2 separate regions of the Homo sapiens genome follow, and region 1 is linked to region 2. The links come from fine-mapping of genetic effects on gene expression. A gene starts in region 2. The other region holds a variant in brackets. All regions are shown on one strand. Distances are from middle to middle.

Region 1 (5,353 bases), 150 kb before region 2:
TCCTGTGCGGGGTCCGCCTCCTCGGCCCGGGACCGTTCGCAGCCAATTAGGCGCGCGCGCTAACGAGGGCGGCGGAGCCCCGCGGCCGCCTGCGGGCGCACGTGTGTTCGGCGTGTGGGCGCGTGGGCGCCTCCGGCGGGGCTGCCATAAATGCGCGGACCGGGCGCCGCGGGCGCCTAAGGCGGCGGCGAAGGCAGCACCGGCCAAGCGCAGGGCGCGGCGCCGAGAGCGAGCGGAGCAGCGGCCGCCTGCGCGGGGTCGTGTGGAGGTGCGGGGGCCGCCAGGGATGGGAGCCCAGTAGGTGGCGGGGCCCGAGCCGCCGGAGCGGCGGGAGGCCGGCATGAGCGCTAGCGGCCCCGAGGCTCCTGGGGACATTCCCGCGCTACCGCCGCCTCCCCAGCCAGGTTCGGGGCCCGCACCGCCCGCTCCCGCCGCCGCTGCCCAGGAAGCTATGGACGGGCGCGCCGAGCTGCCGGCCTTTCCCCGCGCTGGAGCCCCGCCGCTCGCGGCCAGCGACACTGTGCCTGCGGCGCCCGAGGGGGCTGGAGCGGCCCGGCCCGCAGCGCCCCTGCGCCCCACCTCCTTCTCGGTACTGGACATCCTGGACCCCAACAAGTTCAACAGCAGGAGGCGTCGTTGCGTGCTGCTGGGCCCAGTGGCTCCCGCTGCGTGCGCCCCTTGCGCTTCGGCCCCATGCGCCCCTGCACCCGCCGCCTCGGGACGCCCGCCACGCGCGGAGGAGCTGGAGCGCCGCGCCCTCGCCGGCGCCGGGGGAGTCGGAGCCGCCGGAGCTGAGCCGCCGAGTGAGTAGGATGCGCCCGGCACCAGGTCGCAGGGACGGGGGACCGGAGGCTTCTATGCGTTTACGACCCTGGGACACCGTGGCGAGTTGGGTCTGGCCCACGCCGAGGCTCCGTGGAAAGTTCGCTGAGCGCCGGGTCCGCACCAGCCCACCCGTGGCCTCCATCCGACCCGGACTGCAGGGCCTGCATCGCCAGGCTCCTCTGGAGAAGCTTAGCCGGGTCAGGCCCAGGGGCTGCAGGGCTGTGAGGCCGGTCCAGGGTTCGCCTCCGCGCGTCTCCGGCCTAGAAGGGTAGTTGGTGCAGGAGGCGAGGGGCCGCTCGCGGTGGCTGGCCCGTGACCTCCCCGCCCCCACTGTGCCCGCCCGAGGCCTCCCTCCCTCCCTCCTTTCTCCCTCTCTCTCTTTTTTTTTGGACAAATCAGACTAATTGTGACAAAACGCTGGTTATCGCTGGAAAAACAATTAAATCCCTTCGATTACAGTTAAGGGGAAATGTGCTTAGCGGCGGAAAGCGGCCGGTAATGGGGCGGCCCGCGCCCCCGGTCGGGTCGATATCCCATTACGGCGCGTGCATATCTCTTTCAAGCACCTTGCAAACTCCCCCCGAACATCTAAATTATAGGGTCAAAATTCGGATAATTACTCGATTAAAACCTATTACACTTATTAGGGGCCGCTATTGATCGCGAATTGCATTCGACCTGCTCCTGATTGCTTTTTGTGTCCCCTCCTCCTCCCTCCAACTTTCCGGCCCTACTGAAGCACAGGGAGGACAGCGCGGGGCGGACCGGGCTGGGCCGCGGCCACCGGCTCTGCGCCTGGAGGCTGCGGGCCGCACCTGCGCGGGGCCTCTTCCGGGTCGGCCGAGATGGAGGGCGAACAAATCCGGCTGAGTGGAGGGGACCCTACGGACTCTGCGGCGGCTGCGCTCAGAGCCTCCACCTGCGGGGAGTCTATGGGGCGGAAGGCCGGGATCCCGCTGAAGCCGGGAAGGCGCGCGCATACTACAGCCGGGGAGTCATCTGGGCCAGGCACCCGGGGCAGGGCTGGGACGGCGCTCGCGGTCGTCTAGGGGCGGATCCTACTCCTGCTGAGGGTCGCGGGGACCCAGACCACCTGCTGGCCTCCATGCCAGGTGGCCAGTCGCCCTGGAGGAATCTGACAGGAGCGATTGGTCATTTCTTACCGGAGATTTCGGTTCCGACCTGGCCGGAGAGCAGGCCGCGGCTGCCGCTGGGCAGCTCTGTGGAGGGCACCTGCCCCGACTCCTCCTGACTTAGGCCCCCAGTGCCGGGGCATAGGCGACCCTGCCTGGGAGAGATGCTTTCTTCCAAATTTCAGAGACTCAAAATGCAGTCACTTCAGGGCCTCTGCTTGGAGGATGCGGAGCTGCTGTTCAGACTCGGCCGACCGGGCCTTTAGGCCGCGGGGAGCCACTCCGACCTGCACGCCCGCCCAGCCCTCCTGGTGAGGCCGAGCAGGGCCCTACCCGCGGCAACTCTGCGCAGGGGCCGAGGCGCGGGCAGGGGAGCC[G/T]GGGCTGACCCTCGCGACCGAAGCTCAGGGCCTGGAGGCTTGAGGTAGGGTCGGGGCCAGGGCATAGGATTTGGGTCCCCCAAGCCCCATTCTCTCGGCCGGCTCCGGCCCCACCGCCGGGCCTGTTATTAAATGCCCGGCAATTGGCTGGCCCTGCGCCGGCGGTAATTGGGGGGTAATATACGCCGAAATAAATTAAATGGCCTTAACTAGTTTGTACACTACACAAAATGAGTTTAATTAAGTGTGTATCAGCCCTGCGGATCGATCAGAGCTTCCACTCCGCTGTGATCTCCGCAGCCGGGCCCGGCCCGCAGCACCCGTCCAGCCCCGCTCAGGCAAAAACGCCCGGCGCCGCGAGAACGGGCAGCGCGGGGCGAGGGGGACCCTCTCCATAGAAAGAAACAAGCAAGGGACCGAGAGGAGACGCGGGCGGCGGGAGGGAAGGACAGGCCGAGGGGAGGGAAACGACAGAGCGAAGGAGAGAGAGAGGAGGCGGGTGACGAAGCAGGAGGCGCTGAGCAGGGGGCGGGAGGGAACCCTGGGGGAGGAAGCGGGGCGCGCGGAGGGCGGGATCTGGGAACCGGCCGGTCCTAACTGCCCTGCCCTGTCCTTGTCCCTCCCTCCCGCAGACGCCGGCGACCCCTTCAAGGCAGGGGAGGCCGAGACCAACGACACCAACGGCTACAGCAGCGGCGGCGGCGGCCACAGCCCGAGCGCGGACAGCGGGGACGAGGTTCCCGACGACGAGGACGACGACGAGGACGAAGCGCCCGAGACGGAGGCGGCGCGAGGCGCGGAGGAGGCGCGGGGAGGCGGCGGCGGCCTCGGGGCCCGCGGGTCGGGTTGCCAGGGCGCGGCTGAGACCGACGCGTCCCCCGGAGCCACCGTCGACGAGGCAGCGGCCCCCGGACCCCGCGAGAACTCGCCCGTTGCCCAGGGCCCACCGGGAGGTGCAGCGGCGCCGGGGGGCGCGGGGACCACCCCGCAGGGCACGGCGACGGCGGCGAAGCCCAAGCGGAAGCGCACGGGGTCCGACTCCAAGTCCGGGAAGCCGCGGCGAGCGCGCACCGCCTTCACCTACGAGCAGCTCGTGGCGCTGGAGAACAAGTTCAAGGCCACGCGCTACCTGTCGGTGTGCGAGCGCCTCAACCTGGCGCTGTCGCTCAGCCTCACCGAGACGCAGGTGAAGATCTGGTTCCAGAACCGCCGAACCAAGTGGAAGAAGCAGAACCCGGGCGCCGACACCAGCGCTCCGACCGGCGGCGGGGGCGGACCGGGACCGGGGGCCGGGCCTGGCACGGGGCTGCCCGGCGGCCTCAGCCCGCTCAGCCCCTCGCCGCCCATGGGCGCCCCGCTCGGCATGCACGGCCCGGCCGGGTACCCGGCGCACGGCCCCGGAGGCCTGGTGTGCGCCGCGCAGCTGCCGTTCCTGTCGAGCCCGGCGGTGCTCTCGCCCTTCGTGCTGGGCTCGCAGACCTACGGGGCGCCCGCCTTCTACGCGCCGCACCTCTGAGCCCCGTGCCGCTCCGCCTCCGAGGCCGCTGCCGGGCCCGGCTGTTTTCTACGATTCCAGTCGTTGACTCTGTACATAACCGGTTGCTACGGAAGAGTTTTAAATTTATAAATGACCATGCGCGTCGGGGCCGGGCAGGTGGCTCCCGCGGGCTCGGCCCGCTGCGAAGCACTTTGCGGAACTTCACTCAATCAATAAACCGCAGGCGGCCGCGCCCCCTTCTCCCAGGCTCCCGCGCCGCCCTCCGCCCGGCCGGGCCCACCCGTGAATCCTCTCCGGTGGGGACCAAGGCTCCTCGGGTGTTGGCCTTGAGCGGGACTCCAGCCCGTTTTCCCACCGGCCTGGCGTCCCCCGGCCGGAATTCAGGCCACTCTGCTGGTGCCTGCCCGTCGTCGTGGGCGCAGGGGCTGAGCGCAGGGGCTCACCCGCCAAGCTGGCTGAGGCTCAGGTCCCAGCGTCACCTCCCTGACCGCCCCCTCCCCGTCCCAAAAAAGATCACAGGTCTCGGAAAGTGACCAGCTGCTTCCTCTTCGCCTCTCCTCTTAGCCATGGAGCTGGTGGGGCCGCGGCATTTTCCGCCTCCTGCTCCCCACCCCTGCAGCCTGCTCCGGTCCCACTCCCCTGCCCCACAGCCCCGCAAGGGAGCACCGGGCTAGGCGTGTCAGCTTGGGGGCGGTGTCAGCTTCGGCTACTGCCTGGAGGAAGAAGCGCCTGCCTGTTTTCCCCGGGGAGAAGGGGCTGCCTGGGCTCAGCTACCTGCCCAAGAGCGTCCCAGCCCATTCAGACCCAGGCCCCCAAAAGTCGGGTCGAGTGCTCCCTCTTGGAGCTGCCACCTCTCCTCCAACGACGCTGGAAACAGTCCCTACATCCCCTCACAGGCTCTCGGAGTCCTGTGGGTTTGGTGTTCGCCTGAGCTGGGCTCAGGGAGGTGAGAGGCAGAGGCGCTTGGGCTGGGCGGCAGTGTGGATGCAAAAGCTGGTGCTTGGAAGCGGGGAAGGGCGACGGGAGGAGGGTTCAGAGCCCCAGAAAGGGTGGGGAGGCGGCATGAGACACTGGCCACAGCCGGGCAGGTGCTGCCCCTCTTCTGCCACTGGCGGGAGTCCTGAGTCCTGCCTCACAGAGGGAGCTTGGCTCTGCCTGGCGGCTGTGCCCTGACTGGGCCCAGTCTCCTGGTGTCCTGTCCATTTTCCGTGAGTGGGCTGAGCTCATCTCTGGGCTGTCAACCTGACAGCAACCACTGGGGGAGGGCTGGGGGCAGGTGGCGGCAGTGAATACCCAGTGCCACAGGCAAGATGGGAGACACTGCTGCCCACTGGCCTGGCCAGCACCTGTGGACAGAGAGCAGGCCCAGAGCAGCACCGGCCATCGGGCAGGTTGAGGGGGCGGGGCGCAGGGGCGGCTGGGATCACCCTGTGTGTTTGCTGCCCCCACACCCCAAGCCCCAGGCAGGCCTTGGTTCCTCCAGCCAAGGGCCGGCCTGACTCCCAGTTGCTCTCTGCTCC
Region 2 (5,353 bases):
GTCATTTTATTGTTAAAAAATTCTTGGTTGTTTTCGGCTGGGCACAGTGGTTCATGCCTGTAATCTCAGCACTTTGGGAGCCTGACGTGGGTGGATCACCTGAGGTCAGGAGTTCAAGACCAGCCTGACCAACATGGTGAAACCCCATCTCTACTAAAAATACATAAAATTAGCTGGGCGTGGTGATGGGTGTCTGCAATTCCAGCTACTCGGGAGGCTGAGACAGGAGAATTGCTTGAATCCGGGTGGCAGAGATTGCAGTGAGCTGAAATTGCACCATTGCACTCCAGCCTGGGCAACAAGAGCGAAACTCTGTCTCAAAAAATAAAAATAAAAATGACTGGTTTTTTTTTCTGTGTGTACATGACTGACAAGACCAGTGGTTTCCTTTAATACCTCATCGACGTTCCCAGGCACTTTTTGTATTTGAGGTGTGTGAAGTAATAGGTTGGCCCTTGTCTTGAGCGTGATACTGAACACACCGACTAATAAAATGGGGGCCTTTGGCTGCACACCAGGCGCTCTGGGTACTGATGAGCTCGCCCCCAACTCCATGCCAGGAATCAGAACGGTTGCCCGGGAGAGTCGGCAGAAAGAGGAGGAACCGGATGCAGTGATCTACCTGGTTTGTCCTGGTGTCCAGTAACTTGGAGTTCTTCTTTCACACGTGGCTGGCACAGAGGAGACACTCATAAATACCCGAGTTGAATAAAATAGTCCATTGACATGGAGTCGCATGAAGCAGCATTCGTCCATCCAAAACGCCGATGCTTCTTTAGAGTGGACTGAGTTTTCCCCCAATACTAGGTTGTCCCACGCGATGGACAAAAATAGCCCATGTGGCAACGGAGGCTGGCCGGGGGGACCTAATGCCCATGCCTCTGGCATTCCCACCAAGGTGACTGTCCAGTAGCTCCCAGGACAGCCCATCCGTGTAGGGCAAACGCCATGAGCCACTCCTGTGTGCAGGCACAGGGCAGGCCCAGGCACAGGGAGGCGGGTGGGCAGGCACACAAACAGCCAAACGCTGACCCTGGAGGGCGGTGGTCATCTGCTCATCACAGGGGAAAGACTGGAGGTGGGAGAGGCAGGTGCCACCCGCAGGAGTTGGGACGAGCTGTGCACACGGCTGGGCACACGCAAAGCTGAGCCTTCTTCGTGAGCAACACGGTCACATTTGGGTGTAGGAATCTTGGCTGGAGTTGCCCAACGTGGGGAGCAGACAGCTCTGCAGCCAGGACCCCAGTTGGAGAAGGCAGCGCTTGGAACAAGCCAGGACAGTGGACAGACGGGCCGGTGCCAAATAGAAGTCATGATAACGCGCTGACAAGCTGTGCAGACGAACACTGTGTGTAGACGGAGGCCATGGAGAGTGACGATGGGGAAGACGCTGGATCCCTGGCTGGCCTGCATCCCTCTCCGTTCTCAGTTGCCTGTGGAATTCCGGGGAGCTCTGCTCCAGCTACACTGCACATAAAAGTGCGCAGGAAGTGGATCCTGGAGAGGAACTGTTCTTCTGGACTGAGCTTGCTGCTCATGGCAGCCCCACCTGCAGGACCCAAAGCCTTATGTGATGTTTGCTGGACACTCAGCCACGTGGCTGCCTGTTGAGCTCTGCAAGTCCACGCGGGAGCCAGGAATTCCTCCCCAGAAGTCTCTCCATTATATTCACCACCCCCTAGTAAATCACAACCTGACTTGCTGCAGAGGATGGAGTGCCTGGGACTCGTCTGACCCCAGCTCCCCTGGGGAAGTGGGGGTGGTACGTCCCTGCACCCGGCCACGTGCTGCCTTCTCCTGGGCTGCCTGTCCATGCTGAGCAGACAGGAAAGTCCAGTGAGGTCCCTGCCTGTGCACTCCACCAACCACATCGTCCCTTCCCGGCAGCCTCACCTAGGCCCCTCCAGCTACGACCCCTTGTCCCCTGCACCGATGCCTGGCCTTGGAGGTTGCTGCTCATTTTTCTGGAATTTTTTCTTAGATCTCTGCAGGGCTGCCCCTCCCCCTACAAGGGCTCCACACGTGTTCCCTCCTTCATGACTCCCACTGGGCTTCCCCGACAGGGCCTCACCCTCCCCAAAGCTCTGGTGACACCTGCCAGGTTTCCTCCAGGCCACAGCTCGGCAGCCCGATCTTAGAACAGAACGTGGCACGCAGGGCAGGTCTGGCTGAGGGCCCAGCATTGTCAGCGGGGTTGGAGGTCTTCCCGGGCCTCGAAGGGGAGACGTAGGCTTCTCAGGGCAGCCCAGGACGCGTCCTCACGAACCACAGCGAAATTACAGCAGGTATCTCGCGGATAGGAGTCTGCATCATTCCGTCTCCATGCCGTGGTTTCTGAAATTATGCAACTATCTCGGCATTCCAGAGGGCTCAGAGTAGCCACGCGCAGAGGCCCTCCCCATGGGGTGGATGGAAGCGTCCACTCGCGGCGCGAGGAATATCCCTGGGCCCCTCGGGAGAGTCTGCAGGGGCAGCCCCTGGGTGAGCAGGCCCAGTGCGGCCTCTCCCTGAAGGGACTTTCGGGCCCTCCCGGGTCGGGGCTTCACCGGTAGCAGGCAGGGCTTTGATATTAATGCTTAAAGGGAAAGCAGAGCTGAGCTGTCAGGACGTTGGTTAGCTACAAACCCTACTCTTGTTAAAAGAGAAATGGGGTCGGGGAAGGGGTTCTCCAGCCCTGAACTTCCCGGGCCGGGCAGGACGCGGTCCCTCCAGGAGTCGGGGCTCCCCCGCCTGGGGACGCACTGGGGCAGGCGCGCTTCTCCTCTCGGGGTCCCATGTGCCGCCGGCTCTCGGACGGTAAATCAGGGCTCGGGTGGGGGCGATGGGGGGCCCGCGGCCTCGGTGCCCCTGGCCAGCCTCGGAGGCGCACGGGCCAGGCCGCGGGGCGAGAAGCGAGCGCGGGAGGGCGGCAGCTGGCGGAGCGGGAAGGGAGCGGGGCGGCTGCGGCTGCGGCGCGGAGGAGCGCCATTTACGTTCGGGCCCGCGCCAGGCGCTGACGTGGGCGGCCCTGTCTCGGCTTCCGGGCCCGCAGGGTCCTCGGGGCGGACGGCGCTCCCGCCAGCGGCGCTGAGTCCGGCCCGACCCTGCCCGACTTCCTCGGGGACAGGCGGTTTAGAACGTGCGGAACACCAGGCCCGGGGCCTCCGCCGGGCTGCAGCCCCGCGAGCTTCCCGCCAGGCTCCCGCCCCGCCCCGCCCCGCAGCCGCGTCCCGGCCGGGCGGGCCCTGAGCCGCCCGCGTGAGTCCGTGCGCCGCCCGCGCTGGGAACCAGGAGACCAACCGCGAGGCCCCGCCCGCGCGCGCCGCCGTGTCCCCGCCCGCGCGGTCGTCGGAGCGCGGCTCAGCGGCGCGGCGGAGACTCGGCACGGCGGCGGCCAGGCGCAGGCGGGCGGGCGGAGCAGCGGACGGCGCCGAGGCCGCCCCACGCGCCGGGCTCGCGGCGGCGCAGCGCGCCGGAGTGGTCGGGGCCCGCGGCCGCTCGCGCCTCTCGATGGGCAGCTCGCACTTGCTCAACAAGGGCCTGCCGCTTGGTAAGGCCGCGCGCGCGCGCGTTTCCGGCCGCGGGCGGGGGCGGGGCGGGGCGGGTGCCGCGCGGGCGGGGGGCGCGGGGGCGGACCGAGCGCGCGCCCGCGGGCCGCCGGCTTTGTGTGCGAGTGCGCGTGCGCGCCGGCGTCCGCGCGTGGCCGCGGTCGGGGGCGGGACCGCGGGAAGGGTCTTGCGCATGCGCGGGCCGCTGCGTGTGCGCGAGCGCCGCAGTCTGCTCTCCCCGCCCGCGGCCCGTGCAGGTGACACAAAAGGGCCTGTGGGCCTCTGGGCTGCCCCGCCGGACCCCCAGCTCCACCGACCCCAGCCCCGTCGGACCCGGGACGGCACCCCGGGTCCCGATCCCCGGCCGCTACCCCGTCCCCGGTCATGACCCCGTGGCTGGGCCTGCGGGGCCGGGATGGGGCGGGAGCCGTGCGCAGCTCGGGGTGTCCTGGGGCGCGCGCTCCCGGGCCACTCGCGGGAGCGCGCCTCCCGCGGGGAGGCCGCCGGCGACCGTGGCCGCGCGCTGTGGGGGAAGGGGACGGGGCGCGGGTGCCGGGTATGACCGTGGAGGAGGCCGCTGCCCTCAGACCGGGCCCAAAGCGCAGCCCCCGGCGGTGACGCGGGAGGGCCCGGGGTCTCCGTTCCCGCGAACTCCGCGAGGTCCCGGACCGGCCCAGCGCCCCCACCTGCCCTTGCCTGGGCCCGCCCAGGTCCCGGGGCGCCTTCCTCGCGGGCTGCGGCCGCGGAAGCAGGGAGCACGGGCGGGCGCCGGGCTTGCCACCATCGCCATCTTGCAGCGCCCGCGTCCTGGGCCGGCCCGAGCCGCTGCGCGGAGCCTCTCTTTCCCTCGACCCGGCTGCAAAGGCAGAGTCCGTGCGCCTGAGCCCCGGGCCGAGACTGGAGCGTTCTCTGGCGGCCTCCAAGGGCGCCGGTGTCTGGAAGCCCGGCCTGGGCCAGATCCCTTTTGCTGTCGTCTCCGTGATTGCCGGGACAGAATTCCCTTCCAGTGGGGAAAAGGGAAGGCGGTCGCGCCCTTCCCGGTGCCCTGAGTGGGGAGGTGAAACCCTGAGAGTTGGGGCAAGAGGGCCTGGAGCTAGGGCCGAGGCGGCGGGTGCGCAGGGTGTTCCGTTGAGCCCGAGCCCCCCCCCCCTCCCCGGCCTCTCCACCGTTTCTGTAGGAGCGCGGCAGGGAGCACACGTCCCTCGGGAAGAAAACGGCGCTGGCGGCTGGGCCCGCACCGCGGCCGTCCTCGCTGAGCTCCTAGCGCGTGGCCTTTGCGCGTCTGTGTACCCGTCTGCAGCTTGGGGCAGGGTTGGGGGAGAACCGTGGGGTAACTATTTGCCGTTGCAGCTGAGGATGACAGCTGCGGTTTGGGGGTCCCCCTTTCTGTGTCCTGGAACTTTGTAGGGCGTGGCTCTGCCCTGGGCCTCAGCACCCGGCCTCCCAGGTCTCCCCTGCCTGCCCGGGCCTGGCCACCTCCCTCTGGGGTCTGGGTTTGGCTCCTGGTTGGGGCTGTCGGCTCCGCAGACGCCTTTTGCTCTCTGTGATTCTGTTGCCCATCTTTGAGCACCTGCTTCCATACAGGCGTCCTCTGCAGAGCTCTGGGAGGGACACGCACTGGGGGTGGCATCTGGTCACTCCTGGGGGTGCCTCGTCCGCCTGCCCGGCCATTTTTGGGGTGTCTGCCATGTCCCCAACATGCACTTCTTCCTGTCAGCCTTGACCAGGGCAGCTGTTAGTTCTGAGAGGTGGGCGTGTGGTTGGGGATGTCAGCGAGTAGGATCTTCCCTTTTACTCGCTTGTCATTAACCTGAGAACGTGGCAGT

What was found. PIP is the estimated chance that this variant, and not a neighbour inherited with it, causes the effect. A credible set is the group of variants that fine-mapping cannot tell apart.
Region 1: its variant is the best candidate, but not a certain one, in a credible set for the expression of CTBP1-DT in whole blood (INTERVAL, PIP 0.70).

The regions. Positions count from the first base shown.
Region 1 is chr4:1,401,430-1,406,782 of GRCh38, reverse strand. NKX1-1 (NK1 homeobox 1) reads left to right here and starts at 341. Exons shown (of 2, transcript NM_001290079.1): 1 at 341-803; 2 at 2,968-3,851. The coding sequence starts at 341. The coding sequence ends at 3,851. RefSeq lists an enhancer at 390-980 and a silencer at 3,268-3,562. The variant G/T (reference allele first, on the strand shown) is at 2,336.
Region 2 is chr4:1,247,092-1,252,444 of GRCh38, reverse strand. CTBP1-DT (CTBP1 divergent transcript) reads right to left here and starts at 3,005. Exons shown (of 2, transcript NR_033339.1): 1 at 2,973-3,005; 2 at 1-2,334. It overlaps CTBP1 (C-terminal binding protein 1), which reads left to right and starts at 3,315. Exons shown (of 10, transcript NM_001012614.2): 1 at 3,315-3,529. RefSeq lists enhancers at 2,037-2,126, 2,187-2,236 and silencers at 2,607-3,536, 3,707-4,426.